Linked DNA regions of Homo sapiens: regions 1, 2 and 4 are each linked to region 3. Evidence: fine-mapped expression QTL. A gene starts in region 3. Each other region holds a variant in brackets. All regions are shown on one strand. Distances are from middle to middle. Region 1 overlaps G2E3 (G2/M-phase specific E3 ubiquitin protein ligase). Region 2 overlaps SCFD1 (sec1 family domain containing 1). Region 3 holds the start of SCFD1 (sec1 family domain containing 1). Region 4 overlaps SCFD1 (sec1 family domain containing 1).

Evidence for each region. PIP is the estimated chance that this variant, and not a neighbour inherited with it, causes the effect. A credible set is the group of variants that fine-mapping cannot tell apart.
Region 1: its variant is the best candidate, but not a certain one, in a credible set for the expression of SCFD1 in CD4 T cells (CEDAR, PIP 0.57).
Region 2: its variant is the best candidate, but not a certain one, in a credible set for the expression of SCFD1 in whole blood (INTERVAL, PIP 0.52).
Region 4: its variant is the best candidate, but not a certain one, in a credible set for the expression of SCFD1 in whole blood (GTEx, PIP 0.55).

What each region holds. Positions count from the first base shown.
Region 1 is chr14:30,585,881-30,593,993 of GRCh38, forward strand. G2E3 (G2/M-phase specific E3 ubiquitin protein ligase) reads left to right here. Exons shown (of 15, transcript NM_017769.5): 3 at 838-935; 4 at 3,503-3,604; 5 at 6,443-6,567; 6 at 7,594-7,759. Among named protein-coding and RNA genes, the nearest start is that of G2E3-AS1, 13 kb to the left of the region's middle. The variant G/A (reference allele first, on the strand shown) is at 4,883.
Region 2 is chr14:30,696,626-30,704,738 of GRCh38, forward strand. It overlaps SCFD1 (sec1 family domain containing 1), which reads left to right. Exons shown (of 25, transcript NM_016106.4): 16 at 3,563-3,633; 17 at 5,671-5,750. Among named protein-coding and RNA genes, the nearest start is that of SCFD1, 78 kb to the left of the region's middle. The variant T/G (reference allele first, on the strand shown) is at 4,981.
Region 3 is chr14:30,617,473-30,625,585 of GRCh38, forward strand. It overlaps SCFD1 (sec1 family domain containing 1), which reads left to right and starts at 4,847. Exons shown (of 25, transcript NM_016106.4): 1 at 4,847-4,927. The coding sequence starts at 4,867. G2E3 (G2/M-phase specific E3 ubiquitin protein ligase) reads left to right here. Exons shown (of 15, transcript NM_017769.5): 15 at 1-2,592. RefSeq lists enhancers at 4,181-5,380, 4,450-5,129.
Region 4 is chr14:30,665,595-30,673,707 of GRCh38, forward strand. It overlaps SCFD1 (sec1 family domain containing 1), which reads left to right. Exons shown (of 25, transcript NM_016106.4): 11 at 4,662-4,801; 12 at 7,663-7,753. Among named protein-coding and RNA genes, the nearest start is that of SCFD1, 47 kb to the left of the region's middle. The variant G/C (reference allele first, on the strand shown) is at 4,549.

The sequences.
Region 1 (8,113 bases), 32 kb before region 3:
GAGTATGTGTACATCTCTGGGCATGCATGTGGACTTCTAGATTCTCCAGTTATTATGCAGAAGGTTTTCCAAATTTTTATTCCCTCATGTACCCTCTTTTCCCAGTTTCTTCTTTCCTATGCCTTTCAGTCTATCTGCTGCTTTCCCTATCTGTTATCCCTTGTCCTAGGCTGCTACAGCTAGTATATTTGTTTCAAATGTTTTTTGACAAACAGCAGAGGCTCCAGCCCTGAGAAAGTTCTGAGGCAGGTGAAAGAAAGGCAAGCATCTGAGCTCATCCCTCAGGGAGCCATCATACAGGTCAAAACAATCACATTTTTTAAAGAACAAGGTCCATTTTACCCCCTCTTGGACCAGTAATCTGCACCAGGAACACGGGCCACCCCAAGACCACTGCCCAGCTGGGCAGTGGGGAATGGTAGGTGGGTAAGTTAAGATGTTCTCATCAAAATTAGTAGTTTGTTTCTTCATTAAGCATTCTCCTAATTTTTGTAAGTTTTTATTTAGATTGTACAGCTTCTAAAAATTAATTCTAACAGTTTTTGGCAGTTTAATCAGAGTTTTGTAGTTCCCCAGTGTGTCATTTTCAGTGACGTTACTTCATAAATTGCCATTTTAACTACACAGTGAAATTCATCATTAAAGACTGGTGAAGAACATAAAGTTACATTAATGTTTCAGAAGTAGGTATTGGAAATTTTAAGTTACTGATATCAATATTATATGATTTGCTCTCAGAAAGAATTTAACACAGAAATTTAGAGAAGCACCAATTCCATAGGGTTTTTTTGAAATATTTAAATATATTTTTATATCTATTTACTTTTTCACTGTTAGCTTGTGTTTTCTGTCGAAAACATGATGACTGTCCTAATAAATACGGAGAAAAGAAAACTAAGGAGAAATGGAATCTCACTGTACATTACTACTGTTTGGTGAGTATAATTTATAATTAAATTCTAGAAATTTGGTGTTCTAAAGAAGATAGTAAGATTCTGACACTGATTTCTGAGAATTGGATAAGTCATTTAACTTCTCCAGATCTCATTTTGTCTATCTCTAAAAATAGACATTTTGTTTTTTGATATTGAATTCTAAGATTCTGAAGTTACTTAGTACATACAAAGACCTATCATTATTTCGTGTTTGTTTGTTTGTTTGTTTTTCTTTCTTTCTGTTTAAGGCCTAAGTGAAAAAAGGAAAAAATGATTAGGTCTATAAAGGAGGTATTTCTTTTACCACTTTCTTATTTCATTTGTTGCTAGTGATAAATCTGAGAAAAGATTTGTTTGAGGGTTCAGGGAGTGGAATAAAAGTATTTTATTTCACACAGAACCTGAAAAGAAACGTCTTGGCTAAAGGTGATAAATATTTTTGGAAAAGGAAACCAGTTACTTTATGTATCACTCAGAAGAAAGCAAACGAGTGATTTCATACTCAGAATTAGTCTCCCTTTGTTCCCCCTCCCCTCCACCAATTTCTCACCTCACTGAATTCATGCCTTAAGATATTAGTGGCACATTACCACCTTAGCATGCCAGGCTTGCATTAGTACATACAGTGTTTCTTGATACTATATAGTTATCTGCTGCTTAAAAAATTATTCTGAAATTTAGCAGATAAAACGTTTGTCATCTCACATAGTATCTGAGGGTCAGGAATTTGGCTGAGCTGGATAGTTCAGGCTCAGAGTCTCATGATATTATCATTGAGATGTCAGATTACAGCTGAAGACTTTACTAGGTTGCAGGATCCATTCACCTCTGATGGCTCTGTCATGTGGCTTTTGGCCTCAATTTCTCCTAGCTAGCGTCAGGAAACCTCAGCTCCTTACCTCCTGGGCCTCTTAGTAAATAAGGCTACTCGTGGCATGGCATCTGGCTTCTCCCAAAGCAAGTGATGAGAGAGACAGAGAGAGAGAAATCAAGATGGAACCATATGACCTAGTCATCACAGCCACACACTAATGTCACTTTTGCTTTATTCTGTTAGAAACAAATCATTAAGTCTAGTAGCCCACACTCAAGAGGAATTAAGCCCCACTTCTTGAAGTATCAACAAATTGTGGACATATTTTCAAATCTACCACCATCCATGTTAAAATTATTTCAGTGCTTCTTTGAGAAACCACCTGAAGTATTCCTTGGTCCTCTAAGACTACAGTCTTGTGCCTCCGTACCTCAAAGGTTAAATAGAGTAGTAGACTGGCCTGGGAGCTTATTTATAAGAGAACATGAAGTTGTCATTCCAAATATGTTTATAAGTTACAGACGATTATGTTTTGCAGTAAAAAGAAAATCTTTCCATTTTTGTAAGTTTATTTTACTTTTTTTTCAGTCAGGAAAGGATTATTTTACTTTTCTATAAAGTAAAAGGATTATTTTATTTTTTTCTATAAAAAGTAAAATAAAAAGTATTATTTTACTTTTTATGCAGTAGAATTAGGAGAGCCATTTTATGTGTCTGCAGGTTATGTTTTCATAACAAATTCTTAGTGTGTATCACTTGTTATCACTTGTTTTTCTTTACGATATACTGGTTAAAATTCTAATCACAAATTTGCTCTACATGGTGTTTTCAAATTATGTAATACATTTAAGTTGATCAGATCAAAATTTCTCTTATGTTCTGTCTTATTCAATGAATATAATACTTTAAAAAAAAAGTACTGACCCCAGACTTAACCCTTTTAATATTCTATTTCATTATGAACAGAAAAGTATAGTGATGTTACAAATGGCAATAGAATGCTAGAGCGGAAAGAGACTTAGATATAGTCTAATCCAGTGTTTTTATTTTCATGTTTAAGGTTTGAGACATTAATACTTGCCTAGGGTTCCAGAAGTTTCAGCAGAGCCTGGCTTGCAAGCCAGGATTTCTTATTCACATTCTACACTTTCTCTGATTCAGGCTTTCTTAACATGTATAAACAATGAAGCTTAAGTCAAATTTTTAAAAAGTCAAACATTTATTACTGTCACATTGGGGGTTAAGGAAACTTTCTAAAATCAAACATTTATGTTAACTAGGGTTCAATAGGTTTTCTTGTAAATAATGCCTTAATGATTCAGAATTCAGCTAGATTTAGAGTTAGCCTGAAATGTCACTGAATTAATCTGAATTGTCTCCATCTGTATTCACCACTCCTTTTTGTTAAGCTTAATTGTAGGTGTTCTTTCTTTCTTTTTTTCTTCCTCTAACCCACCTAACCACTCACTGCCTTCTTTCCTATCTTTTCTTTTTCTTTCTTTTTCTGTTACTTCCTGGAATACTTTTAGAAACTAATTAGGATATACAAACTGATAATATACAGTGCCATCTAAATCAAACAATGTAAGTAGCCTCTTACTTTGACCATGAAAAATAACTACTATAGATAACTACTTGAAATTTGAGCCATTTTATGTCTGTTTTTTATTAGACTGAATAGTATGGATATATATTTTTTTAATGCCCAACTAGTTTCTTAGAGTTTATTTTCTAATTGAGAATATATTCATAGTTGATGTCAAGTGGAATTTGGCAGAGAGGCAAAGAAGAAGAAGGAGTTTATGGTTTTCTAATAGAAGATATCAGGAAGGAAGTGAATAGAGCTTCTAAACTGGTAAGTAAATTATTTTACTATTAAGTAATGTCATAAATATTGTCAATACTTGGGAAGTCTTTTCTATCAGTTTCTGTACTAGAAATTTATGACTTTGATTATAGGTTTCAATGCATATTTTGTCATTTAAATATGGTAAGTTTTAGGAGGACAGTTTATATTTTTGCCCATTAAAGAAAGCTTAATTGACCCTGGATAATACATGTGACAATACTGACTTCACTTCCTTATCTTATTCCAACATGTCCATCAGAATTGACCATCAGAATTATGATCTGATGGTCAATCTTCTCTGACCATCAGAATTATGATCATAACTCCACTCTGCTGTTCTCTAAACCTTTGATCCTGAGTCAACCCAACCATATACTTTTTTATTCTTATACCTCAGTTTCTGAGATTGGAATGTTGGGTTGAGTTAGAAATTACACAGCTTTCCAGACTGGCAATTCATGATCTCCATATCTCCTGACCCTTCTCTAACATTGTGTGATTATATTCAGTACCCTTTTCTATTCTCTAGGATAGGCATTCTAAACTTTAACTCCTTGCTCATTCAGTTATCATTTGTGCATCTTCTATATAACAGCCACTATGCTGTATGCAGGGAAACGTCTCCATATTGTCTAAGTAAAAATAATGAGAAAGAATGAGAAGATTTGAAGTACAGGGAGTTCTGTTTAGAGAATGTGATACTGGCATTAATGATTTTCATGGGGGAGCATTTTGGGTGATGAAGGGATTCATCATTACACTGGAGGGGAAATGAAGGACACTGACACATTATAGTTGAAGAAGTCAAAGAAAGATTATCCCATAAATGCTGAAGTTGTTTAGACTTTGTTTTCCACAGATGCCAAAGTCTTGAGGTGGAGGAGTGACTAGGAAGTTAGCAGATAACAGAAGGGTAAATGTCATTAGGCTCAAAGGTCCAAATTTTTCAAAGTGTGAAAATCAAGTAGTGGCCTATAATATTCAACAGAGAACTAAAATAATGTTCTCTTTGTCCCCTTTCCTGCCCCTGTCCATGTCCCACCCCATGTCAAGTCTGGAAATTAAGGAGGATGGAAAAATAAGCAGCTTTATTCAAGAAGGTCTACAAGGGAAGCACATAAGAAACATTTATTCTTTTAGTTGAGGCAAAGAAGTGGAGGCAATTATTTTTGAAGATATCAAGAAGGTAGGAGAGTTAATGGTAAAAACAGAGGTTCTAGGGCACAAGGAAGAACCGTGGGAGAAAGGTGAGCATGAATCTAAGGACTACGTGAGATGTTAAAC[G/A]TGAGATATTAGTATCATAATTCCTAAACTTCCTGGTGATAGTGAGCTTGTGGTAAAAGGTGGTCTCTAAAGGTCCCCTTATGGTTTGGAACTACAGATTGAATATCCCTTATCCAAAATGCTTGGAACCAGAATTTTAGATTTGAAATTTTTTTCAGATTTAGGAATATTTGCTTACCAGTTGAGCACCTCTAATCTGAAAATCCAAAACCCAAAATGTTCCAATGAGCATTTCCTTTGAGCATCATGTTGGCACTCAGAAAGTTTCCTATTTTGAAGCATTTTGGATTTTAGATTTTTGGATTAAGGGATATTCAACCTGTACTTATTTTCTTAAAACATCCGAATCCTCTCCAAGTATATTGTGAACCCTTGAAAAGAAGAGTCTCATTTGTGAACTCAAACTAGAATTCCTTGTTGTCAGTTCATTGGGAGAGTTTCGGGTTGGCAGGTATTCTCCAGTGACCTAGGTGGTGCTCAAAGGGGTCAGCAGTAACTCTGTAATCCCTGAATCAGTGACCATTTTAATTGCCGTCTTAAGGGTTCCAAGGTGTTTTAGGTACTGTTCTGTATTTTGCTAATGATTGATTCATTTAATAATTTTTCTATTTATGTACCACTGTTACATTTCAGTTAGCGGCACTGGTAGTATATTCATTTCCTAGGGCTGCCATAGCAAATTGGCTGCTTAAAACAAATTTATTCTCTCACCATTCTGGAGGCCAGAATTGTAAATCAAAGTGTCAAAAGGGTTCCTTCTAGAGGCACTAAGGGAGAATTGATTCCATGCTTCTCCCCTAGCTTCACATGGCTGCTGGCAACCTTTGGAGTACCTTGGCTTGTGGCAGCATAACTCCAATCTGTTTCTATCTTCACAGGCCTTTCTCTGTATATGCCTGTGTCTTAAATCTCCCTCTCCTTTCTCTTGTAAAGACCTCAGTTATTTGATTTAAGGACTACCCTAAATCCAGGATGATCTCAAGATCCTTAACTTAATTACATCTGCAAAGACCGTATTTCCAAGTAAGTTCACATTCACAGGTACTGGGAGTCGGGACCTGAGCATAACTTTTTGGAGACCACTCTAAATCCACTGTAGGTGTCTCAACACTTTTTCATTTGGTCAGAATAGAGTGATCTTAGCCTTTTTTACAAATTGGTTTATAGTATTTTCCTATTCTTCTTGGTGAGTGTTGCCTAATTTATGTGCTTTCTCTTGAGATTTCAATGAGGTGTTTATGTATATAGCTTTTATGTTTATAAACCCTTCAGTTTAAAATATTTTAGTAGGAAGGAAAAGGGGCTTCTCTGTCTTATCCACATGTTAGGCTAGAGATGTTTTCTTTATCGAAATTGTTATAGGAGTGAATCTTTGGTGTCTTTAGATTGTTTCTGGGTAGAACAGTTTTTCAGGAAATTTATTTAATATACCCTTACCACAGCTGTTACATGATGAAATAATTTTCAGATTCCCCACCAGGAGTATTTATTTATGTCTTGATCATATTATAATACTCAGATTTTTTATGTTGTGACCCCTATTTTCACATACTCTTCTAGAAATGCTGTGTTTGCAAGAAAAATGGTGCTTCAATTGGATGTGTTGCACCCCGATGTAAACGAAGTTATCATTTCCCATGTGGACTTCAGAGAGAATGTATTTTCCAGTTTACTGGCAATTTTGCGTGAGTTATTTAACTGTTAAATATGAAAGTTCAGTGTTAAAGAATAGTGGAAAATACATATCCCAATGATATAATACTACAATAAATTTTCTGTTTAGAGCATCAGAGTTTAGATATAACATTATATGTATTACCCTCCCGCCCACCCTTATGGGGTCATTTCTATGTGCCAAGTCTTGAGAATTACCATGTCTAGGATGGACCTAATGATTAGCTTTCATTTTCAATTTTCAGCTTTTGGATATAACATGAAATTGTTAATTTATCCATAATTCAGTGAAAATCTCCACCTTTACATAATTCTAGATTTCTGTGTCACTCTTTAGAATTATTGTAGACTTATTCTTCACAGGGCTGTATGCATTTCGAGTAAATCAAAGGCATGTAAATTTGATTGAGTACACAAAGTAAATATTATGCCCTAGGATACCCCTGAAAATATTTGCTTCCTGAGTACAACTTTAAACATCAAGGTTTTATGAATTTTGACTTTTGGTATCATAAGTATTCCATTTCTTTTAGTAGTTGTGTTTTTGACCTATTTAATGGATTGTTATCATGTAAGAAAACTACAGTTTAGAAAATACAAATGGAAATAAAGTGAATTGGGAATAGGTTATTAATTGCATTTTATGTGTTATATGACTAAACTATTTTTTAGGCGTAAGTTCCTGCCTCCCTTAATTTTATACGATTTTGAGCACAACGTATGCACCCATTTGTTGAATACAATAATGTATATACTGTATTGCTGACAATATTACACAGGATTCTCAACATAATTATTAGTTTCTGAAATTCTGTATAAGTAAGTCTCACTACCAGAAAAGTTCAGATTTCGAAGGTCCAGCTCTCTCCTTGGTCATAGATTGTGAGACTTAATTTTTAGTGCCAAGGCTCCAGTCTGTTGTAGGTGAATTATGAGACAGACACAAATGAATTTCATTTTATATATGTGAATTACAGTGTTTTCCAAGTTTTGCTTTGCAGTTCATGAGATTTTTTTAAAATAATTTACATTTTTAGGTCATTTTGTTGGGACCATCGACCTGTTCAAATAATTACATCTAATAATTATAGAGAGTCCTTACCATGCACCATTTGCTTGGAATTTATTGAGCCTATTCCAAGTTATAACATATTACGAAGTCCTTGTTGTAAGAACGCTTGGTTTCATAGAGACTGTTTACAGGTAAGATACATATTTTGTAAGCTTTCTCTGATTGATATAAAATTATGGCTTGCTGATTTAAATTTTAAATTAGAAAGAATTGACGTGTATATTACCTCTTACTACTTGTTACTTTTAAAACAGCTTTAAAGCACTTAATTTGAAGCAGATTTTACATACAAAATTCACCCTATTTAAGTATACAATTAACATTCAATAAATACTTCAGATGAAACTTTTTAATGTATATTTATACTTAAAGAATTTTGTTGTTTTTACCTAAGGATTTTGTTTGATTTCACAATGAATAAACTAGATTTTAATTCCTAAGTTTCATTTACATATTTATGCTGGAAAACCAGGATATTTGAAATG
Region 2 (8,113 bases), 79 kb after region 3:
GTTCAGGAAAGGAAAGCAGAGTGTCCACATGTGGGAGTAGTCTAGCAAGGTGTGTGAGAACCATAACAGATTGAGGAGGGTGACCCCTGCACAGGAACAAACCAGCTTGGGCCTAGGTGAGGTGAGACGTATGTCTAGGTATGTGGATGGGTCCACTGCAGGAAATCAGAGCTCAAGTGAAGTAAGAAGGGCATCCATGCAGCAAGCCCATGGAAGCAGAGATGGGATATTTGTTATATACAGGGGACTGGCTAAATAAATATATTGGATAATATAAAGAAAGCCCAATTTCCCATTGTCAGAGGAGGAATTTATAAATATAGAAAGGGAAAAAATTAGAATGAACCCTGTAGTGTTGGATTGGAATTAGAGGTGTTGGTGTGAACTTAGTGTTTTCGCTATATATCTGTTCAGATACAGAAATAAATATAGATTGTATGTTGGGGGGGGCGGTGTATACTCATGTATTCCGTAACTCTGCCAACTGAAAGGGCCTGGGAGCAGCAATGCCCAACTAGTAAAGATGCTGCCTTATAAATACAGTTTCCACTAGGACTCCTTGGAGAGGTAGCTGATTCCAGAGGTGGGGCAGGGAGCAAAAGTACAAAATGAGTCTGGAACATTTTTGTTGTGTCAGAAGGCAAGGAAGCTACTCCAAAAATGATGGAACTTGTCAAAAGAACCCAGAAGTCAGCTTGAATAGGCTCCAGATGATGACAATTTGAGCATCAAAATAAATAATAACAGATTATAACCCACTGATAAAAGAGGATGCCAAGAGTCCATGTGGACATAATAAATGAATAAATTGAAATTTCATAGGATATTTATGCAGTTTCAGAATACCTCCCCACAAAATACTTATTAACTGTAAGAAAAAGTAACGGTGCGGTGGAGAAGCCTGATAAATACCTTATTAGGTAACCACAGTGAACGTCGTCAGTAGAGAGACATAAAATAGTGGGAAAGTACTAAGCAGATTGTGGAGAGGAAGGAGCTCAGGAAAGGCTGAGAGGTAAAGGGCTAGTAGGATTCAGTGCAAAGAACACAGCATCACTGTTGTGATATTCTTGCCTCGGTATAACCTAAATCTAATCATGAGGAAATATTAGACAAAACTTAATTGTGTGATATTCTAGGAAGAAACCAGCCTATAGTCTTAAAAAGTAACCAAGGCCATGCAAGTCAAGGAAAAATGGAGGAACTGTTTCATACAGAAGAAGACTAAAGAGGCATGACAACTGTATGTGGCACATGATTCTGAAATTGATCCTTTTTCCATTAAATATACTGTAGACATAATTGGTAAAACTTCAACTAGGATCTGAGAATTAAATGATAGTGAATGTGTCATGTAGTATATCACATCGCTGTAATGGTGCCAGTGTTAATATCACATTTTGCTAATTGTTTTACTGAGGCTGTGTTAGAGAATGTCTTTGACATTTGGGGGTAATGGGACAGCAGGTCAGCATCTTACTCTCAAAATTTCAGGGAGAACAAAAGCTCTCCAAACTGTACTTAAAATTTTTCTCTAAAATACATCAGATTACTCAGTAAGGGAATTCTAACTTTAAAGCAGCAGTCAAAGGAGAGAGGTGCGTGTGACAAGAGGTTCCAAGCTGTAGCTACAGGCTTTAGAATAATCATAGTTGTAAAGGACACATGCTGACAATTTCAGTTTGGTTTCCCTGTGGTTATGTCATTATAACCATCAGTATGCTCCCCAGCCCTTAGCATCAGATTGGTCTTTAAAACCTTAGCAGATGTTCTAAGGCAGTTATTAACACTGTAGCAGTTTTAAAGTATGTTTCCTCTTGAAGAAGAGTGGGAGCTGTTCTTTCTTTAAGCAAAGTAAGTATCTACTATTAGAAAAGGCTGTGCTAGATGCTGAAGATGCTGGAAGCAAACTCGGGGACCCACAGGCCCTAAAACTCGGAGGGAGGGGAACCTTCCTCTTGTATATTAGGATCTGTGGTCCCAAGCGGGTAGGACAAGCCTCATTACTCTTTTGCCCTTTGTCCTCTAGCTGGTTGATCATAGTTGCGGCAGTTACGGCAGGAAGTGCTCAGTGAAGCAGGGTGACCAAAGCCAAAGCTTTCTAGCTGGGGCACCAAAAAGGGAAGGCCAAGGAAATGGGAAAGTACCAGGGAGATTGTGGAGAGGAAGGAGCTCAGGAAAGTAACCTCATAAAGTTGTTCATGAATTCCTGGGTTCACCCCTGAACTGCACATCTATGAAGCTGATCCTAAACAGCATTTCAAAGACTGAGAGGGGAAGAGCTAGAAGACGACCTCCCAGTCCCCAGACTGACCACTGGTTCATGGGACAGATCTCAATAGCACTTCAAGAGGTTTTGAAAATAGAATCGATGATGGAAGAATAACCTACGGAAGGCTGGTAGGAACATTAGCCTGTACTGAATCAGGCTAATTACCTGTTAAAACAAAAATATCAGTATTGTCCTAGGATTTAACAGGACCTGGAGTCTCATAACCTAATATTCCAAATGCCCCAAATACAATATTTATTTGTAAACATGAGAACTTTAGAGAACTTACCATTATCTTTATTTTACCATTCTTTGTCATCTTCAGGGAGTACGGATAATTAGAGAATGAGCGTTAGTGTTCCAAATCATATAAAAAATAAGTGTCTTATCAGTCATTATGTTTTGAAGAAAATCAGCTAGTTTTTATTCTATCATAAAATACAACAATTCTGAGTTCTTGCATCTTAGGATGCACTTTAAAGTGAGACTGAATATTGTTATTTGTCGAGAACAATGCTTTATCACCTTTCCACCAAAGTGCACATACATGATAGAAGAACAGACAATAAATGAGTTTCTCTGGACAGTCTTGGGCTTTGGGTACTAAGAGTAGTAACTCAGAGCACTGCAAGCAAGACATTACTTTGAAGTCTTATGTTTTGTCTTAAAATTTGAGGCAAATATATTCTATGTGATATAACAATTTTTTTAATAAAAATATATTGTTTTCCCATTCTTATAGTAATATAAAAGCCTTCAGAAACATGTGTATTTAGGGGCCCCCCAATTTGAGAAGTATGGCTTTAGGCTCAGCTAGATGATTTTGTTTAGCCAGCAAAGTCTCATAACCCAATTCCTAGGGTGACCATACATCTGGTTTCCCAGGATAGTCCCACTTTCATACCAGTTGTCCTTATGTAATTGTTACTGGCACCCCTTTTGCCACCTCAAAAGTATCCTGTTTCAGAATTGTATGGTTACCCTGCTTATATCCTTTCCTTTCATTGTGAGTTTATATCTAAAAGGGAAATCTCAACATTATACACAATTTGGAAGATACAATAGAGATGCTCTCATAATCACAGCCCTCTAATCCCACCTCATTTAATCTTTTCCATATTTGTATTTTACATGGTTATAATTATATGCCTGTTACCTTAGTTAAATCAAGAGCCATGTTTTGTTTTGTCACATTTATATATGCCTTGAAATGTAACATACTTGTGTTGACTATAATACATAATAACCACAATTATGAAAATATTTTTTAACCTCTTTTCCCCTATGCAGCAGGAACTCCAGAAGATAAAATGAGGTTGTTTCTTATCTATTATATAAGCACACAGCAAGCACCTTCTGAGGTATGTCCTTTATTCAGTTATTGGGAGGAAGGGGAATGCTTGTTTGTAGACTACTACAATTCAGATTTTAAAACAGAAGTAAAAATCACTGTGGCTAAATATCTGCTTCATTTCTTTCTTTAAAAGAAAAATGGCCAGGCGTGGTGACTCACACCTGTAATCCCAACACTTTGGGAGGCCGAGGCAGGCAGATCACTTTGAGCGCAGGAGTTTGAGACCAGTCTGGGCAACATGACAAAACCCCGTCTCTACTAAAAATACAAAAATTAGCCAAGTGTGGTGGCGTGCGCCTGTAATCCCAGCTGCTGGGGAGGCTGAGGCAGGAGAATCGCTTGAACCTGGGAGGCAGAGGTTGCAGTGAGCCAAGATCATGCCACTGCACTCTAGCCTGGGTGACAGAGCAATACTCCATCTCAAATAAAATAAAAGAAAAAAAAGAAAAACAATTTGTTAAGGCTGCTTCTATGTACTGCTGTGTTTTATAGCAACTTTTATTGTTACCAGGGGAAACTACCCGTGAAACATCTGACTACTTTTAAGTTGTTGGAATGTAAACTGAATTTCAGTGGCCAACATTCTTATTTTTGGAAAATAACTATTCTAAACTAAGTTAATCAGATTTGCTATGCTTTTTGAAAGGTTGACCTTATTTTAAGATTGTTTTAAAACTAATGTCCAATGTAGAAAATACGTTGTCTATTCTGTAAAAGAAAGTGGTGATTTTGGTATCAGACTTCTTCTGGGTTAGAGACTGTTGACTTTAATGTTAACTGTATACTTTTACTGGATGAGCAAGAAGCATAAGAACCTCAAGATGACATTTAGAATGTGGCTGTTCTAAGCTCCATTCCTTTGCTGGTAGCAATTTTTTGTTGTTGCTGTTGTTAGTATCTGGTAAATTGATAGGGTTTCTGTTGGTCAAAAATCTTTGGCATATTAAGACAGCAAAACTAAACCTGATATTTGCTCTCAGCCATTCTGCTTTACCCTGGGAACACAAAGCTTTACTTCTAATTTTTTAAGAAAGTGTGGTTTTCTTTTTGTAAGTATCTCTTTCAGGCCAAGGTGGGAAGATCACCTGAGGTCAGGAGTTTGAGACCAGCCTGGCCAACATGGTGAAACCCCATCTCTACTAAAAATACAAAAATTAGCTGGGCGTGGTGGTGCACATCTGTAATCTCAGCTACTCGGGAGGCTGAGGCAGGAGAATGCCTTGAACCTGGGAGGCAGAGGTTGCAGTGAGCCAAGATTGCTCCACTGCACTCCAGCCTGGACAAGAGTGGAACTCCATCTCAAAAAAAAAAAGTATCTCTCTCATCAACAGGGGTTTACCTATATATCTCAGGG[T/G]ATTCTAATAGCCTAATTAAAATATTTTTCTTAAGAATATGTGATTTTAAAACTTAATTCAGTGTTCCCTTAATTTAACCACATTATTTTTATTTACTTTTGGTAAGGATTATGTCTTTTCATAAATTTAAGTGATCGTTAAGATAGGCTCCTTTAAGTTACACAAATTCAGCCAGACTTATCAGAAAATGAGTAAGGAAGAGTGAAAAAAAAAAAATTTAAAAGTGCGGGACACCTGTTGTCCAGTTAATGAATCTGGACCCCTAGAATGAAAATGAGATGAGAAACCGAAATCTGCAGCTCCCCTCAGTTGGTGTCATTCCTCTTGTGTTTCTGGTTTAGAAATATTCTTGGTCAAACCAAATCATTCATTTAGTGTGTGTCCTGAAGAAAAGCAGTCTATCCCAGCAGTAAAGGAAAAAATAGCTTTGTTGGACTTGCTGAGAAATTTAAAAATACTGTACTTTTATAGGTGATTTGGGAGCCTCTTAAAGGTAATTTTCATTATATGTGATTTTCTTGTCTTGGGTGCTCACTTGGGTACTCACTTAAGACGTGACTCCACTCTACTTGGGTGCCAAGAATTTAAACTCATGCCTTTGGTCTTACTTTTTAATTAATCAAATGGCAACAAATAACATCTTTCTTGAAAGTAAAATTTTTTGTCATATAGTTCTTTTCTTATTTCAGGCTGATTTGGAGCAATATAAAAAAGCTTTAACTGATGCAGGATGCAACCTTAATCCTTTACAATATATCAAACAGTGGAAGTAAGTTTTATTTTCTTCTTTAATTCCTGTCATTTAAAAGAGTACAATTGAGGCTTCATTCCCAAGAAAATGGGAATGCTAATAAGAAAACTGAACAATGCCTTGGTGGTTTTATATATCCAGTGGCATAAATATTTCCTTATCTGGCCCACCCTGTTTACAACTTAAAATTACATAAAACAGTGATGCCTTTCTTTCCTGGGCAAGCTTTATAGTTTCTTTACTGATAAGGTGAGAAAGTCAAAGACCGAAATGTCTGGAGTCAAATGTCTCCAAGGCATTAAGAGGAAATTTTAATTTGACTAGTAATCAAAGAAATGCAAATTAACATAATGCAAATGTTTAGAAAATACCATGCCAAGGATACAGGAAAATTCACTTGTGCATTTTATACTCTGCTATTAGGAATATAAATTGTCAAAATTTTTCTGGATGGTATAAAGAGTTCTTTAAAAATAGCTCTGACCTAGTACTTCTCTTAAGGATTTATCCCAAAGAAGTAATTGGAGCTAAGACTTTAGACACAATTGTAATAATGAAATTTTTAAAAGCAACCTAAATGTCTAGCAGTAGTGTTAGTAAGTATATTGTGGTATTTCTGCAAGATAAATACAGTCAAGTCATTAAAAATCAGAAGGCTTACTTAATGACATTGAGAAATGCTCACGTTATATTGCAAAGTAAAAAAAAAAAAAATTATAACACTCTTCATTGATTTGTTTAATAAATATTTCCTAATAGCGAGCATGATAAACAAGGCCCCAACTGTCAGTGAATTCACATTTGTGTTGAGGAAACAATTAACAAATAAGCAAATAAATGAACAGAATAATGTTAAACCATGTTAAATGACATAAGAAATAAAACTAAGTGGTAAGATTTTAACCTGCTGGGGGTGATAGCTAAATTTGCTTAGGAGATCAGGGAAAGCATCTAGTAGGCAGTCACATTTGAGCCAAAACTTAAATGACATTTTTTACAGTTATGATCCCTGTTTATCCATTTTTTCATCCATATGTATGTGTTCATATAAGCATACACATAAAAACATGTAATTACAGAGTTGAAATGGCATACAACTAAATGTTAATAGTAGATAATTCCAAATAGTAGAATTTTTTTTCCTTTTGGGTGCTTTTCTTTATTTTTCAAATTTTCTACAAAAACTATTACCTTCAAAATAGTTTTTAAAATAATTAATTTTTTAAGACTAAAGGATTAAATAGGCTTTCTGATCACAATTACATTAAAAAAAAGCATAACAAGAGAATTACACCAAGTTGTTAACAGTAGTTATCTCTTGAGTGCTGAGATTATGAGTGCTTTTTATTATCTATACTTTTGACTTTTGAAACTTACTTTTGTCTGTGTTCTTGTAATAAGAAAAAAAAATACACAACAAACCTTTGTTTAAAAGGAAAACTGAAAACTGTCTTTCCCAATTTTTATAATACAGGTTGAATCCCCCTTATCCAAAATGCTTGGAACCAGAAGTGTTTTGGATTTTTGATTTTTTCAGATTTGGGAATATTTGCATATATATATATATATATATATATATATATATATATATATATATATATATATAAATAATGAGATATCTTGGGGATGGGACCCAAGTCTAAACAAAAAATCAATTATTGTCTCATATGCATAGCCTAAAGGTAATTTTATCAATATTCTTAAGTTGTGCATTTGGACTGCAACCTGACAAGAGGTCAGTGTGGAATTTTCTCATTGTGGCATCATGTCTGCACTACAAGTAAACATTAGTGTATATTCTTTCATTGTTTATACATATGACAGATTTTTTTTCTAGAGACAAGGTCTTGCTCTGCCACTCAGGCTGGAGTGCAGTGATACAATCATAGCTCACTGTAACCTCACAGTCCTGGGCTCATGATCCTTCCATTTCAGCCTCCTTAGTAGCTAGGACTACAGGTGTGCACCACTGCACCCAGCCAGATATTTTTTAAAACTGGGAAATCATTTTTAGAGATACAGTTTTGTATTCTAGTTCTTAATAACTTTCATCATGCCAGTTCATGGAAGTATTTACTGTTTGCCTAATATTAAATCATATAAATATACTGTTATTTATTTAACCCTTCTTTGTTGTTTAGATATTGTTTCTAGTGAAAAACTATTTTTTGTTGTTGTTGTTAATGCAGAAATTCTAATCCACTGCTGATTCACATCATCCTTTCTGAACAAGACTGAAATTTTTGTTTGGGATTTCTCTAAGGGTATTGTTGGCACATTTTGTCAAGATTGAAATTGAATATTTTTAGCATTTCTACTACCACATCTTAGTGATTTACATTTTTTTCCCTTATAAAATTTTCTTTAGGTACTCTTTTTTT
Region 3 (8,113 bases):
TTGAATGATCTCTGTGGATTGGTAGGTTTGGCCATTTGACCATTATTTATTATCAAGTTGGTTGTATGCTAAGGTAAGTTGACGCCATAGCATTATACAGTTATCTTCATTGCTCTTGAATGATATCTGTTATATAAGCAATGTATAAATAAAGTAAAAAGGATAGAATGAAAAACCCATTCTAATGTCACCACTCAGAGATAAGTACCGTATTTCTGTGTATCCTTCTATAAACTCTTTACTTCTGTTTCCTTTATTTTTTAACTTTAATAATGCTACTAAAAGACAATACCTAAAAGTAACTGTACTAACAAAGTGCTAACAATGTGAAAATATATAGTCCCATAGTCATGTCCCCATATTTATACTCCCACAGAAGAAAAAATTGGAAAACAAAGTCTGATGTCCTTAATCTATTAACATATTTAAATGATATAATGGTTCAGTTTTCCATGAAAGTAAATCATTATGGGAAGTAAAATGTTTTAACCATATTTTTCTTAATACACAAAGCAGGTGTCAGCTGTTGTATTCTCACCCTTCTTAAGAAAAATCATTACATTATTGATATTTTTTAAGTAACAGAATAGATTTGAAAGAGATAATATATCTCTTAATACCAAAGGAAAACTAAAACATAATTCTAGTGTACTTTTCTTTGTTCCCTCATGTCTTTTTCAATCTGTACACTAACATACCTAGCAAATTTGTTTTACTTTAACTTGAAATATTTAAGAACATTAAACAAGACATTTCTTTGGCTTTGGTTGAATTTTTTTGTCTCACCAATAGTAATTGAAAGATCAATTATCAAAGAGTTTGAATAGCTAATATAAACCCCAAAGTCACCATACAGTTTTTATTCCAAATATGTTGATAAAAAGATATTTGTTTCTTTATCCACCTTATTTTTATTACAGCTAAAAACCAATACAAACCAATAAAACCTAGTTAAAGCTATTTTCTGGTTTTTAGTTGCAATTAATTTCCCCTAGGGTAGAAATTAAAGCTGATTAAGTCACACACACATACTTTGTTGGGGTGGGGGTGGCAGGTGGAGAGGCAGTGTACTTGGGTTAGCTACAATTAAAAACAGTATTTCAATTCCTCATTTGACTTATTTTATATATAGACAGGGCCTTAGTGATAAGATGGTGTAAATAATTTAGGATATTCATGTTTTAAAGTGAAGCATAAATATTTATTTTGCAAAATGTTTTCTAGTTTGAAGGATGTTCCATTATTACCATTTTTAGATTAATCTGTATGGTCAAGGAATATCAGAGAAACCTGTAGGTTATTTATTTTCTGCAGTGTCATTTTGTCAAATGGTTGGTATTATAATTGTTCTTTTCTTATTAATTTTATAACCAGTGCATAATTCTTACATTAGATTTTAAAAAAGAATTATGCTATAAATCTTTATAAATGTGTACATATATTTCTTAAATATTGCAATTGCCTAAATGTTGTATATTTTAAGGCTGTTTTCTCTTGCTCTTAATGTTGAGGAAAACTATAAATTGATCTATAATGCATCTACTGTTAATGGTTTTGGTTAGTTTGATATTCATTGTTTTTAAACACTTTCCAATATGGAAACTTTAACACCTTTTATACAATTCTCTACTATTCAAGATATTCTTTAAAATATCTCACCAGAAACTTACAATTTTATACTTTGTAATTTTTAGTTTCTGTAATTTGAGGAAGTGACTTTTTTTGTTTGGGTTAAGTAAAAAGCCTTTGATTGATTACCAGCATGAGAATTCACCTTGGTTTCTATTTTATGCATTTGTAAATTTTTCCCCTAATTATATGGAAGCTATTGGAACTTTTGTATTCAGTGCTAAATACTAAGTCAAGGGGAGTATATTAGGTAAGTTTTTTCAGTGACTGTGCCTTTAGCATTCAGTCATTATAAGAAAATGATCAGAACAAAATCATTACATTATAAACATGTAATTCTTTTATATAGTGATTATCATGTACTGCATTGTTACTTTAAAATAAGCTATTAAACTAGTTTTTATGGTTCAAGTAATGCAATACAAAGTTTCATGCTTCAAGTAATGCAATACAAAACATAACCCATTTAATGATGAATTACTTGAATGTATATTATCTGTGGTTTAGGAAAATTTGGATTGTCTTGAAGAGACTCAGTTTTCAAGTTCTGATTTTGACCATTATCTCTTCTAATTCATAAACATATCCCAGTACCTACACTATGCCAGGTATTATGCTAGGTGATCGTTTATATGTCAGCCTATTTCCCCCCCTTTTAAAGACTGCCAGATTAACCAAAAAGCGTGACATTTATAACAATGTTTTATAAATAAATAAATGTGTTTATGCCACTAAAGGTAAACTGCCTATTTAAACTAAGTAATTTTTTGGGATTTAATAAGATTAAGATTCTGACGAAACTGAAAGATACAAGATTCCTTTACTCTCCACATTTGAGAGATCCTATAAGCAAGCAGTTAGTGTCTGACACCCAGGAACCTATAGAAATGAGGGAATCTGTGTTAAAACTATGTATCCTCTAATGTAAAATAGCTTACCAGAATAAATTATTTAAGCCAAAAATCTGGACTCAGATAAATGGCTATAGTAAATTAGGTTAATGAACAATCTGTAGCCATAGATTATTTTCAGTCTTTCTGATTCTAATAAAACAAATACCTTATTCAGTCTCAGCCTTACAAGGGCTATTTGTCTATGGTTGCTGTTCTTCTGTGAGGTGTATTTTTCTATAAATTTATTGCCCACATTCTGTGCACTTGGTCAGGAGTTTTTATCATTTCATATATATGCAGTGTACATCAATTTTAAAATTGTCTTCGTGGTTTTAACATGACTCATAGTCTTGGGAGAGAATCTGTGATGGAACTGAAGTGGCTCAATGATGGATTTGCATTTGAAAGTGGAAGTACCCAAATGAGCAAAATTGGGCTCTCAGACATTTTATATTTCATAGAGACTGTAGAATGCAGTAGAACTTTCCCATAGGGCAGAAATAATTTGTTTAGTTGGAACACACCTAGATCATTGAAGATTCCTTCAAAATATTAGTAATAGTACTGAAGACACACATGTATTCCAGTTAATTTCTTAATGAATGTGCCAATTAGCTATAAAAATGAGATTACATAATTTTTTTTTCTTTTTTGAGACAGAATCTCACTCAGTCACCCAGGCTGGAGTGCAGTGGCGCGATCTCTGCTCACTGCATCCTCCGCCTCCCAGGTTCAAGCAGTTCTTCCTGCCTCAGCCTCCCCAGTAGCTGGGATTAAAGGCGCCCACCACCACACCCGGCTAATTTTGTATTTTTAGTAGAGACCGGGTTTCACCATGTTGGCCAGGCTGGTCTCGAACTACTGACGTCAGGTGATCTGCCCACCTCTACCTCCCAAAGTGCTGGGATTACAGGCGTGAGCCACCGCACCCGGCAGAGATTATGTAATAAGATAACCTGTTTTAAATGTCACAAAAATAAATTTTTATTAATGAAAAAAGCCAGTGTTTCACACTATAAAACAATATATAATCGTTAGGCTAACCATTTCATTTATATAATTGTGAAAGTTAAGCTTTTGAGGTACAGAGTGATTTCATTTCAGAATTTGGTGCAACTTCATAATGAAGCGTCATCAATGAACTCGGGAAATGAGGTGTCATTGTGTATCCATTTTGGTCATACAGTAAAATCTATGGATTAAGTTAGAAATCATCTATCCCATATATTTTGCGGTCACGTGGCTTCAAGTGTACATTAAACCGCCAGCACAAGACCAGCCTGGCCAACATGGTGAATCCCCGTCTCTACAAAAAAAAAAAAAAAAAATTTAGCCGGGCGTGGTGACCCCTGCCTATAGTCCCAACTAGTGGGCAGTCTGAGGTGGAAGGATAGTTTGGGAGGATCGCTTGAGTCCGGGAGGTCGAGACTACAGTGAGCCGAGATTCTGCCACTGCACTCCAGCCTGAGCGACAGACAGTGAGATACTATCTCAAAAACAAAACAACAACAAAAACCAGCACATCAGCCTGGCCTGATGGTGTGCCCCTGTAGTCCCTAGCTACTTGGGAGACTGAAGCAGGAGGATCGTTTGACCGTCAGAATTTGAGGCTGCAGTGATCCCTGATTGCGCGCTCCAGCCTAGGCAACACACCCCACTACTGCTTGACTTCCTTCCCACGGCAAGGTGATTTTGCAATTACTACAAGGAAAGAGGAGAAATGCTAATTTCTCATTTTGTACCTCCCTGGATCCCGTGTCCATGCCGGCAGAACGCCACCATAAAGCTACACCTTTTTTTTTAAAGAGATGCGACTGAGAAATATGCCAGATCAGAGTAATGCTCCAATGCTTTCCGTTTCTCTGGAGAAAGGAGCAAAGGGAAGACTCCTGCTGCACTGAGAAACGAGAGCTAACGTTAAAATGTTGCCTGTGTTTCAGGAGCTTCATTTACTTCAGTCCTGTGGTCCTTATACTCCTAGAGCATTATCACCCTTTAAGTGCTCTGTAAGTCACCAAACCAACAGTTCAGTAATTAGGTTCTTAGCACTACACGCTCCTACCCTAACAGCTCAATTTAATGTTGCTACCATTTGAGAGAGTGTGGCTTGATTCGGTAGGATAAAAACTCTTAGTATTCGCCTAACATTACGGGCCACTGAATTAACCTGCACCGGGTCTCCCAGTTCTACCGAGAGTGGAGGTCTTCCTGGAGGAGGTGGGGTCCGGAACTCAGGCACACCCTTTGGCCCCGCCCTTCCGGGCTTTGCTTCCGGGGCGGTAAGGGCAGCCACGTCATCCCCCCGCTCCGCTCCCCAGCCGGGCAGTGGCTCGTGGGAGCCAAGATGGCGGCGGCGGCGGCAGCGACAGCAGCAGCAGCAGCCAGTATTCGGGAAAGGCAGACAGGTACTGACTTATTCTCTTCTCCTTGAAGCTTCGTGACTGCCCCGACGACATCCTTCTCCTCTGGTGCGTGCAGCTCAGAGACCGATCTCCAGGAGTTTAATCCAGTCCCTAGAACATCAAGAGCCCCTCCCCTTTGAGTTTTTGGGGAGAAGTTGCCATTAGCTTGAGGACTCGGTTCCTCCTGTGGTGCAGGAGAAGGAGCTTCAGCGGTGGGCGGATTGCTACGGCCCTGCTCTTGTCTCCTTCCTAGTGGGCATCAGAAGGCCATCACAACAAGATCTAGCAGCTGATAGCTTCTTATCTATGTTGCCACCTATGAGGTCTCCGAGTTTCTGTGCGTGGTTCAGTTCTCCTGGTTTTGATTTTTAAGAGAACTCCCATTTTCTGACACTCAGAGAATTTAGGTATTTTCACAGCGGCTTGCTTTGCGCCACTTCTCTACTTCGGACCAGTCTTTTGGGGGTACCTGCAGAAAAATGCCTGGTGATAAACATTTTCTCCTTCAGCTTGCTGGAAGGCATTGAAGAATGGCAAAACAAATGAATTAATAGCTTTCTCATTTTAATTGTTTGACACATTGTTTTAAAATAATATTTTATCTTCAATAGAGCATGTTTATATAGCTTCTATTTATGCAGAGAAATGTAAAAAGGCACATATTCTTCTCTTGAGTTTTGGGTTTTTTTCCGTCTTAGAAATTAGTTTTGCCTTACTTGAAAACTTCTCATGACAACTTGGTTTATACCTGTTAGCTACAAACTAAAGGTTTATACTTGTTAACTAGTTGTCTTAAAAGTTTTCAAGCAATTTATTCTGAGGAGCTAATAGAAATAAGGCATCAAGAATGTGCATACTTGGAATTCTGTTTCCTGAAATTATGCTCTGTTGGATATAAATATGAATAGGAAAATAAATTTATAATTCATATGACCTACAGAAGGGATTTGGGCTGTACTTGATTCCTTCCTTTGGCATTTAAAGAAAAAGTGATAGACTTCAATTTAGTAATGACACACAAAAGATACTGAGTTGCGTTCTGCTTTTCCCAGTAAATAATTTAGTATAACCTATCAGGTGAAGTCAGGCATAACTAAATATAGGGAAGTTCAAATAAGATTTGGGGCATACCTGCCATTCGTTGTATATGTTTAAACAAATGGAAGCTCCATTTGTTTTAATACTGTGTTTCTGATGACTATACTACATATTAAAATAACGTGTCAGTAAAACTGTACCAATACAAGAGAGCTTTTTGAAAAATAAATTTGCGTGGCCGTAAACTTGTATGCAGAAATTTTGTAGATCATTAAAATCTAATCGTTTGTATTTCTGCAGAAATAAACATAGTAAGATTTTACAGAATTACTAGGTAGTGCTAGATCTATTTTTTATCAAATTTTTACTGTCATTGAATTCTGCCTTATTTTCAGAGGAAGGTAAATCCTTGTATATATATTATAATGCAGAATTAGCTATTTCCCTCATGCCTATGGAGAATGTTTTGGGAGATAACTCACAGTCCTTAAATATTCTAGATACTAGAATATTTGGGTGGATGAGATAATAGTTGGCATTTATTGAGCATTTACTATTGTTAGGCATTGCATTAGGTGATTATGTATTATCTCCATTTTACAGGTGAGGAAAGTAAGATAGAGGTAAACTAACGTGCCTGTTTCTTGCTTTGCCTGCCTGAAAAATCTTTATTGGTCTCCTGAAAAATCTTTATTGATCTTTTGAAGGTCATCCCACAAGCCATCTCCTTTCTTCCTGGTTCACTGTCCCCTCTATCCATACCTTCAGTTCAATAGGTAGAATCAGTTGCCTCCTGCTCCGTGTTACTGTTGTTCTTCATTGAATGCGTCTTCGTTACAGGTTCTTGCACATCTTCCCAGCTTCTCAACATTGCAGGGTCCCATTAGTGTTCTCATCTAGCGCCTTAGCTTTCAGTATTATCTGTATGTTGATGATTCCCAGGTTTATATCCCTAGTCTGGCCGTCCCATCTGAACTCAGTCTACTCCATATCAGTTAATGGCAGTTCCGTCCTTTTAGTTGTTCAGGTCAAAAACCTTGAAGTTTTCTTGACTTGTCTCTTTCATGTCTCATGTAAGATCTTTCAGTAAATCTTGTCAGTTCTACTCTGAAAATACATCCAGGATCTGACTGTTGTCATTGCTATTCCGAGGTCCTGTCCACCATGAATTTCTGCAGTAACCTATTTGGTCTCTTTGCTTTTACAATCCTGTTCTCCTTCATTATTTTTCACACAGTACCCAAACTGATCATGCCATATGTTTGCTCAAAATCTTCCAGCATCTTCCCATTTCAACCATGATAAAAGCCAAAGTGATCTTACAGTGTTCTACAAGGCTTTATACGATCTGGTTTCCATGTAGCTTTTGGACCTCACTCCCTATTTCTCTTCCCTCTCCTTGAACCCACCAGGAATGCTCCCACCTTCGAGCCTTTGTATTTGTTTCTTCTTTGTGGAGTACTGTTTCAGAGATAATCTCCATGGCTCACTCCCTCACTTCCTTTAGGTCTTTACTCAAATGTTACCTTCTCAGGAGGCTTTCCCCAATTATTCTGTTTAAAATTACACCTCAACTCCATCTTCCCCTTTCCCAATCTTACCTTTCTTCAAAGCACTTACCATGATCTACATACCATATGTTTTACTTTTTTTTTATTTTATTTTTTTTATCCCCCAATTAGAATGAAAGCTACTTGAGGACAGGCGATTTTATTCACTGTTTTGTTCAGTTGCTAGATCCCCAATAACTACAGTGCCTGTGGTGAGCACTCATCAAACGTGTTGAATGAATGAATAGTGTGTATGTAAGTAATGACATTAACCAAGTCTAGGAATATGGATACAGGTTGAGTATCCCTTATCCAAAATGCTTGCGACCAGGAGTGTTTTTGATTTTGGAATATTTGCATTATTACTGGTTGAGCATCCCAAATTTCAAAATCCGAGCACCAGCTTAAAAAATTTTGATTTTGGAGCATTTCAGGTTTCAGATATTAAGACTTGGGATGCTCAACCTGTAGTATATTTAGAGCCAATAAGAAAAATGGTTTGTCATTTCAGATAAAGTCATGGTTTAAGCCTTGGGTAAACTCTGATAAAAGTAAAATTACGTTCTTGTAAACTCTGAACACAGGCCGTGTACTCCATTAA
Region 4 (8,113 bases), 48 kb after region 3:
GGCAAATTGGATAAAGAGTCAAGACCCATCAGTGTGCTGTATTCAGGAGACCCATCACATGTGCAGAGACACACAAAGGCTCAAAATAAAGGGATGGAGGAAGATCTACCAAGCAAATGGAAAGCAAAAAAAAGCAGGGGTTGCAATCCTAGTCTATGATAAAAGAGACTTTAAACCAACAAAGATCAAAAGAGACAAAGAAGGCCATTACATAATGGTAAAGGGATCAATTCAACAAGAAGAGCTAACTATTGTAAATATATATGCACCTAATACAGGAGCAAAACAAGATTCATAAAACAAATCCCAGATTCACAAAACAAGTCCTTAGAGACCTACAAAGAGACTTAGACTCCCACACAATAATAATGGGAGACTTTAACACCCCACTGTCAATATTAGACAGATCAACGAGACAGAAGGTTAACAAGGATATCCAGGAATTGAACTGAGCTCTGCACTAATAGACATCTACAGAACTCTCCACCCCAAATCAACAGAATATACATTCTTCTCAACACCACATCACACTTATTCCAAAACTGACCACATAGTTGGTAGTAAAGCACTCCTCAGCAAATGTAAAAGAACAGAAATCACAACAAACTGTCTCTCAGACCACAGTGCAATCAAACTAGAACTCAGGATTAAGAAACTTACTCAAAACCGCACAACTACCTGGAAACTGAACAACCTGCTTCTGAATGACTAATGGGTAAATAACGAAGGCAGAAATAAAGATGTTCTTTGAAACCAATGAGAACAAAGACACAACATACCAGAATCTCTGGGACACATTTAAAGCAGTGTGTAGAGGGAAATTTATAGCACTAAATGCCCACAAGAGAAAGCGGGAAAGACCTAAAACTGACACCCTAACATCACAGTTAAAAGAACTAGAGAAGCAAGAGCAAACACATTCAAAAGCTAGCGGAAGGCAAGAAATAACTAAGATCAGAGCAGAAATGAAGGAGATAGAGACACAAAAAACCCTTCAAAAAAATCAATGAATCCAGGAGCTGGTTTTTTGAAAAGATCAACAAAATTGATAGACTGCTAGCAAGACTAATAAAGAAGAAAAGAGAGAAGAATCAAATAGACGCAATAAAAAATGATAAAGGGGATATCATCACTGATCCCACAGAAATACAAACTACCATCAGAGAATACTATAAACACCTCTATGCAAATAAACTAGAAAATCTAGAAGAAATGGATAAATTCCTGGACACATATACCCTCCCAAGACTAAACTGGGAAGAATTTGAATTGCTGAATAGACCAATAACAGGCTCTGAAATTGAGGCAGTAATCAATAGCCTACCAACCCAAAAAAAAAGTCCAGGACCAGGTGAATTCACAGCTGAATTCTACCAGAGATACAAAGAGAAGCTGGTACCATTCCTTCTGAAACTATTCCAGTCAATAGAAGAAGAGGGAATCCTCCCTAACTCATTTTATGAGGCCAGCATCATCCTGATACCAAAGCCTGGCAGAGACACAACAAAAAACGAGAATTTTAGACCAATATCCCTGATGAACATCAATGCGAAAATCCTCAATAAAATACTGGCAAAGCAAATCCAACAGTACATCAAAAAGCTTATCCACCACAAACAAGTTGGCTTCATCCCTGGGATGCAAGGCTGGTTCAACATATGCAAATCAATAAACATAATCCATCATATAAACAGAACCAAAGACAAAAACCACATGATTATCTCAATAGATGCAGAAGAGGCCTTCGACAAAATTCAACAGCCCTTCATGCTAAAACCTCTCAATAAATTAGGTATTGATGGAACGTATCTCAAAATAATAAGACCTATTTATGACAAACCTACAGCCAATATCATACTGAATGGGCAAAAACTGGAAGCATTCCCTTTGAAAACTGGCACAAGACAGGGATGCCCTCTCTCACCACTCTTATTCAACATAGTGTTGGAAGTTCTGGCCAGGGCAGTCAGGCAAGAGAAAGAAATAAAGGGTATTCAATTAGGAAAAGAGGAAGTCAAATTGTCCCTGTTGGTAGATGACATGATTGTATATTTAGAAAACCCTATTGTCTCAGCCCAGAATCTCCTTAAGCTGATAAGCAACTTCAGCAAAGTCTCAGGATACAAAATCAATGTGCAAAAATCACAAGCATTCTTATACGCAAATAACAGACAAAGAGCCAAATCCTGAGTGAACTCCCATTCACAATTGCTACAAAGAGAATAAAATACCTAGGAATTCAACTTACAAGGGATGTGAAGGACCTCTTCAAGGAGAACTACAAACCACTGCTCAACGAAATAAAAGAGGACACAAACAAATGGAAGAACATTCCATGCTCATGGATAGGAAGAATCAATATCGTGAAAACGGCCATACTGCCCAAGGTAATTTATAGATTCAATGCCATCCCCATCAAGCTACCAATGACTTTCTTCACAGAATTGGAAAAAAACTAAAGTTCATATGGAACCAAAAAAGAGCCCGCATTGCCAAGTCAATCCTAAGCAAAAAGAACAAAGCTGGAGGCATCACACTACCTGACTTCAAACTATACTACAAGGCTACAGTAACGAAAACAGCATGGTACTGGTACCAAAACAGAGATATAGACCAGTGGAACAGAACAGAGGCCTCAGAAATAACACCACACATCTGCAACCATCTGATCTTTGACAAACCTGACAAAAACAAGAAATGGGGAATGGGTTCCCTATTTAATAAATGGTGCTGGGAAAACTGGCTAGCCATATGTAGAAAGCTGAAACTGGATCACTTCCTTAAACCTTATACAAAAATTAATTCAAGATGGATTAAAGACTTAAATGTTAGACCTAAAACCATAAAAACCCTAGAAGAAAACCTAGGCAATACCATTCAGGACATAGGCATGGGCAAGGACTTCATGACTAAAACACCAAAAGCAATGGCAACAAAAGCCAAAATAGACAAATGGGATCTAATTAAACTAAAGAGCTTCTGCACAGCAAAAGAAACTACCATCGGAGTGAACAGGCGGCCTACAGAATGGGAGAAAATTTTTACAATCTACCCATCTGACAAAGGGCTAATAACCAGAATCTACAAAGAACGTAAACAAATTTACAAGAAAAAAATCAAACAACCCCATCAAAAAGTGAGCGAAGGATATGAACAGACACTTTTCAAAAGAAGACATTTATGCAGCCAAAAGACACATGAAAAAATGCTCATCGTCACTGGTCATCAGAGAAATGCAAATGAAAACCACAATGAGATACCATCTCACACCAGTTAAAATGGTGATCAGTAAAAATTCAGGAAACAACAGGTGCTGGAGAGGCTGTGGAGAAATAGGAACGCTTTTACACTGTTGGTGGGAGTGTAGACTAGTTCAACCATTGTGGAAGACAGTGTGGTGATTCCTTAAGGATCTAGAACTAGAAATACCATTTGACCCAGCAATCCCATTACTGGGTATGTAGACATCTGTAATTTTTCAAATCCTGCTTTTTATGTCAAAGAGAAAAATGGCAAGGAAATAAACTATTATAAAAGATTTATTTGAGAAAGTTACAAGGTTTATGTTAAGGACCTAGAGTCAGTATTGATAACCTTGTTTTATCTAAAGGAGACTGAATTGCATTCAGTATATTTAATTTGCTAAGACCTAGAATAATCATTAATTCAAAATATATACAGATACCTTAGAACTAAGATAATTATATTTCAGTCATGCTGGATAATTTCTCCATACTGTGTCTTCCTTCTTCATCAATCATTTACTTGTTGATAGTCATGTTTTATCTTTCACTATTCTTTAGTTGGCATTAAACCATAAAATGCTGCTATTTGTGAGGGAACCCATAGATGTAATGCAAGAAGTTGGGGGAAAGAAAAAAGATACTTACTTTTATTTTTGCCTAATGGTTTTTGTGGGTTTGGTTTGGTTTGGTTTTGGGTTTTGGGGGGTTTTTTGGTTTTTTTTACAGAAAAGGTACAAAAATCAAGCCTCACGTGAATAAAATTAGTCCTAGGCAAGAAAGTTTAGCCACTACTGGCCTGACTCTTAAAGTTTGTGTGAAAGAGGGGCATCACTTATTATTATAGCATCTATTGTAATTTTTAAAATTGCAGTTCATCACTCAAGTGACACATCAGAATGTTGACTCTCTAAGAGTTTAAAAATATTTAAGATAACATTTGTTACTGGAAATGACCAAGCATCAGGAGGCCTGGTTGCATAAGTTGATTTAGCCAAACATTGGACTACTGTGTAGTTATGATAAAGATGAAGTAAATGTACATATACAGATACAGAAAGAGCTGTAAAATGTATTATTAGATGAAAAAAGATATAACATGTACCCTGTAATCCCATTTTAAAAAATAAAATTAAGAGGATGTGTATGTGCTATTATATGCATCAATGTTTTTCTAGAAGGATACACAAGCATATTGACATGTTTTTCTCTTTTTCTTGTTTGAAATTTTAATATACATCTAATACTTTCATTAAAATACAGAAACAAAATTACATTTGTATGTAACAAAAGATTGGGAGGAGAT[G/C]TTTTAAATTTCAGATCTATATTTTGTCCTTGGAAACATTAGAAAGGGCAACAAGATTCTATTTTTATTAGACTTAGAAAACAGTTGTTTAACACAAGATTACTTTTTCCTAGGATTTCCATTTAAACAGGGTTAATTTGGAAGAATCTTCAGGAGTGGAAAACTCTCCAGCTGGTGCTAGACCAAAGAGAAAAAACAAGAAGTCTTATGATTTAACTCCGGTTGATAAATTTTGGCAAAAACATAAAGGAAGGTAAGCAAAATATCAATAAGTAAAAGATTCATTTTTTTAAAGAGAAATTAAGGTGTCATCCACCTTAATGAATTTGAGAAAAAAAAGGGTCATGTAGGTTCGTTCACCCAATGAGTGGGGGCTGTAATTAGATAGTCTGTAGATATTTGTCTTTATTTCTCCATTTCTCACTGATTCCTAAGTTGTTTTTTGTTCATTGTTGTTTTATAGGGACCGCTTCTCCTTTCAATGAGATCATCCTATACAGATAGTCTTTTTCAATTTTGTTGCTGTCTCCACTGACTCTATAAGACCATCTCTGCCTTTCATTTAAATTGGCTTTTGTGATTTTGGGGGTGATTTTTTCCTTTTTGTTACATGTTGCCCTCATGTAAACCTTGTTTTAGATACTTGTGGAGAGAGTACCTAAGCCTAAAAGCCTAGAAATTTATTCAAAGTACATTAGAAATAATGAGTGATAAAACTGCATTAATTTGCCATGTGATTTACTGTGGGCAGATATACATATCCCATGTGATGCTATGCCCCCTTAAAGTTTAGGGTACTTCATGGGCTCAGTTACTGCTATAAAAGTTATCTAGTGATCATTATGGCTAGAGCCATCATTCTAAACAAACAAAAATATTATTCCTCAGAGAAAAAGAATACTGTTCATCAACAATTATGAAAATATGATTTTTAAAAAATATTTCAAAATGTGTGTGTGTCCTTGATATAGCTGTTCTTTTTGGGCTTATATTTATTGTTTAAAGAGAAGTCGAATATAGACTTGGTTCAACATGCTGGGTTTTTAATATGCTTTATCTTTTTTTTACTTACAACTTTTTTTTAAGCTGGAAAATCAAATCGCCATAACAAAGATTTGACTTTCTCTGCAGAGAAAAGTCACTGTCTTTCTCTTTCTCACTATGGCAGTTTTAGGTACTATTTTAATTAATTTTAATAAATTTGATTTTAAATAATACTCTTCCCTTTGGAATTCCATAATCTACGTTTCCCTCCAGAATGGTGAAGTACAAGAAATTACTTTTATTAGAGAGGCATTATTTATAGAGAATACAGAATATTTTGAAGTTGGCATTCCCTAATAGAGAAAAGCTTAAGAAAAAAATCTCTGTATTCAAATATGGAAATTTTGAATTTTTTTAGAACATATGTTTAAGAACAATTTAAGAGGTCAGTTGAATAGTAAGAATTTTAACCTCCTATTCATTAAGTAGGAATAGCTCTTTTGCTCTGCATCTTACATACAATAGTAACATGGGCACAAAGACACTTGGAGATAGCATAAACAAGTGACCTAAACCTCTCTGAGCTTCAGTTTCCTCATCAGTAAAATAGGGAGATAATAATTCTACCTATTGCCCTATTTCAGAAGGTTGTTGAGAAGATTGAGATAATGAATTTAAAGGAGTAATTTGCCCAAGTCATCCAGCTTTCGTTGGTAAAGCCAGGGATGAAACCCAGGTCTTGCAGACCATAAAGCACCCAGTCTTAACATTGAATAGTTAAGTTATGATAGTTACCTCAACAGATTCATCAGGATTAAATGAGGTTGCAGTGAGCCGAGATCACGCCATTGCACTCCAGCCTGGGCAACAAGAGCAAAACTCCATCTTAAAAAAAAAAAAAAGAAAGAAAAGATAAATTCTTAGCATGGTGTTTGATGTATAGTAAAATCACTTAATAAATGTGAGCAATTATTCTCTGTTAACTCTGAGACCTAAAGATATCAGAGATTTTGAGGATTATCCAGTTCAACCCACACATTTTACAGATAAAGCTAGGGCCCTGAGAGGGTAAGAGCTTGCCTGTAAAGGAAGTTTCCATTATAATTAGATGGAACAAGGGTTTCTGACTCCCCAGTGCAATGCTGAGGCCTCAGTGCTATTTTTTGCCAACATAGACTCAACTGGAGCTGGAGTAAATGCCTGTGCTTGTGAGGTAAAATTGGACTGTGTTCCTCAGAATCCTTTCTGAGCTCCTGTCTTTTCTGCTAGTCTCCATTGGATAAAATGTGCTTGTTATTAGAGAGGTATTTTCAGATGTCAGAGCTGAGGAAGGGGGGAAAGGTTTTTGTTCACTGTTAATGAGACATGACCTTTTCTTTCTTAAAGGAGAAAAGGCTTCTGGCCTCCCCCTAGGCTGTAGATGAAAAATACTCATTTTAAGAAACATTTAATGATCAACATGTATTCACCTAGAGTTTGTCAAGATTAGTACAGTGTTTTCTACCTGAGTGCTCATGATTGCAGATCACTTCTGCCTAAAGTCTATGTAAGTTACTGCTAAACCACAATGTCCTGGTAGAAGACATCAGGTATTAGGCCACCAAAACTGTGGCCCAAGTGCTATTTTTACCAGTAGTGTTCTGGGATATTATGAGTTCTGAGTTACAAGAATTTTTTCACAGTTACTTGCAGGTGATATTTTTAAATGCTGTCTTTGTAGTTGCATGGACCCTTTGACATGACGTGTTAATTTGGATGGGAATATTTAATTGATATTTGATATAACATGACTTGTCTTCCATTGATTTTCAGTCATGTAAATATTTTACTTTTTCTTCTAAAAACGTATAAGTGAAGAGAATGTATGATACTGTTAATGAAAAATAGAAATGAAATTTAAATTTTAGATGTATATTATATGCATTTTAAAGAAATAGTATTATATAGATATCAGAAAGATATGTAGTTGTATTTGTGCTGAATCTTTTCTGCCTTTGTTATATATAACATATATTCAAATCCAAATAAGTATATTTAAAATAATAAATGTTCATTGTATATATTTTAGAATTTACACAAAAATTGGTCTTTTAATGTCATCCTCATAGTTCTTGTGCAATACTGTTTTAGTCCATTCCCAGAAGTTGCAGAATCAGTTCAGCAAGAACTAGAATCTTACAGAGCACAGGAAGATGAGGTCAAACGACTTAAAAGCATTATGGTAAGATTCTATTTGCTTTCTAAGAATTATAGGAAAGAGGAGGATTATCTGTTAGATAAAGAGATTTGGGTTTTTTTCCTTATAAAAATTGAAGGCCATTTAATGCTTTTATAACAAAAATATTTTCAACTTGCGTAAGTGATCAAAAAGAAATCTAAATATTGAGAAGAGAAAAAATAATATATGATTTGAAAAAATATATAATGTAGCATCATTTTAGAGATGTATGTTCCAATGCTGCTCATTCTACCATACTTCGATGTAACTTCAGATTTCAGCTCTACTGTTTATTGCTGTGTGACCTATGGCACGTCTCTGGGCCTGTCTCCTTATCCAAAAATGCCAGCTGATCATTTAGAC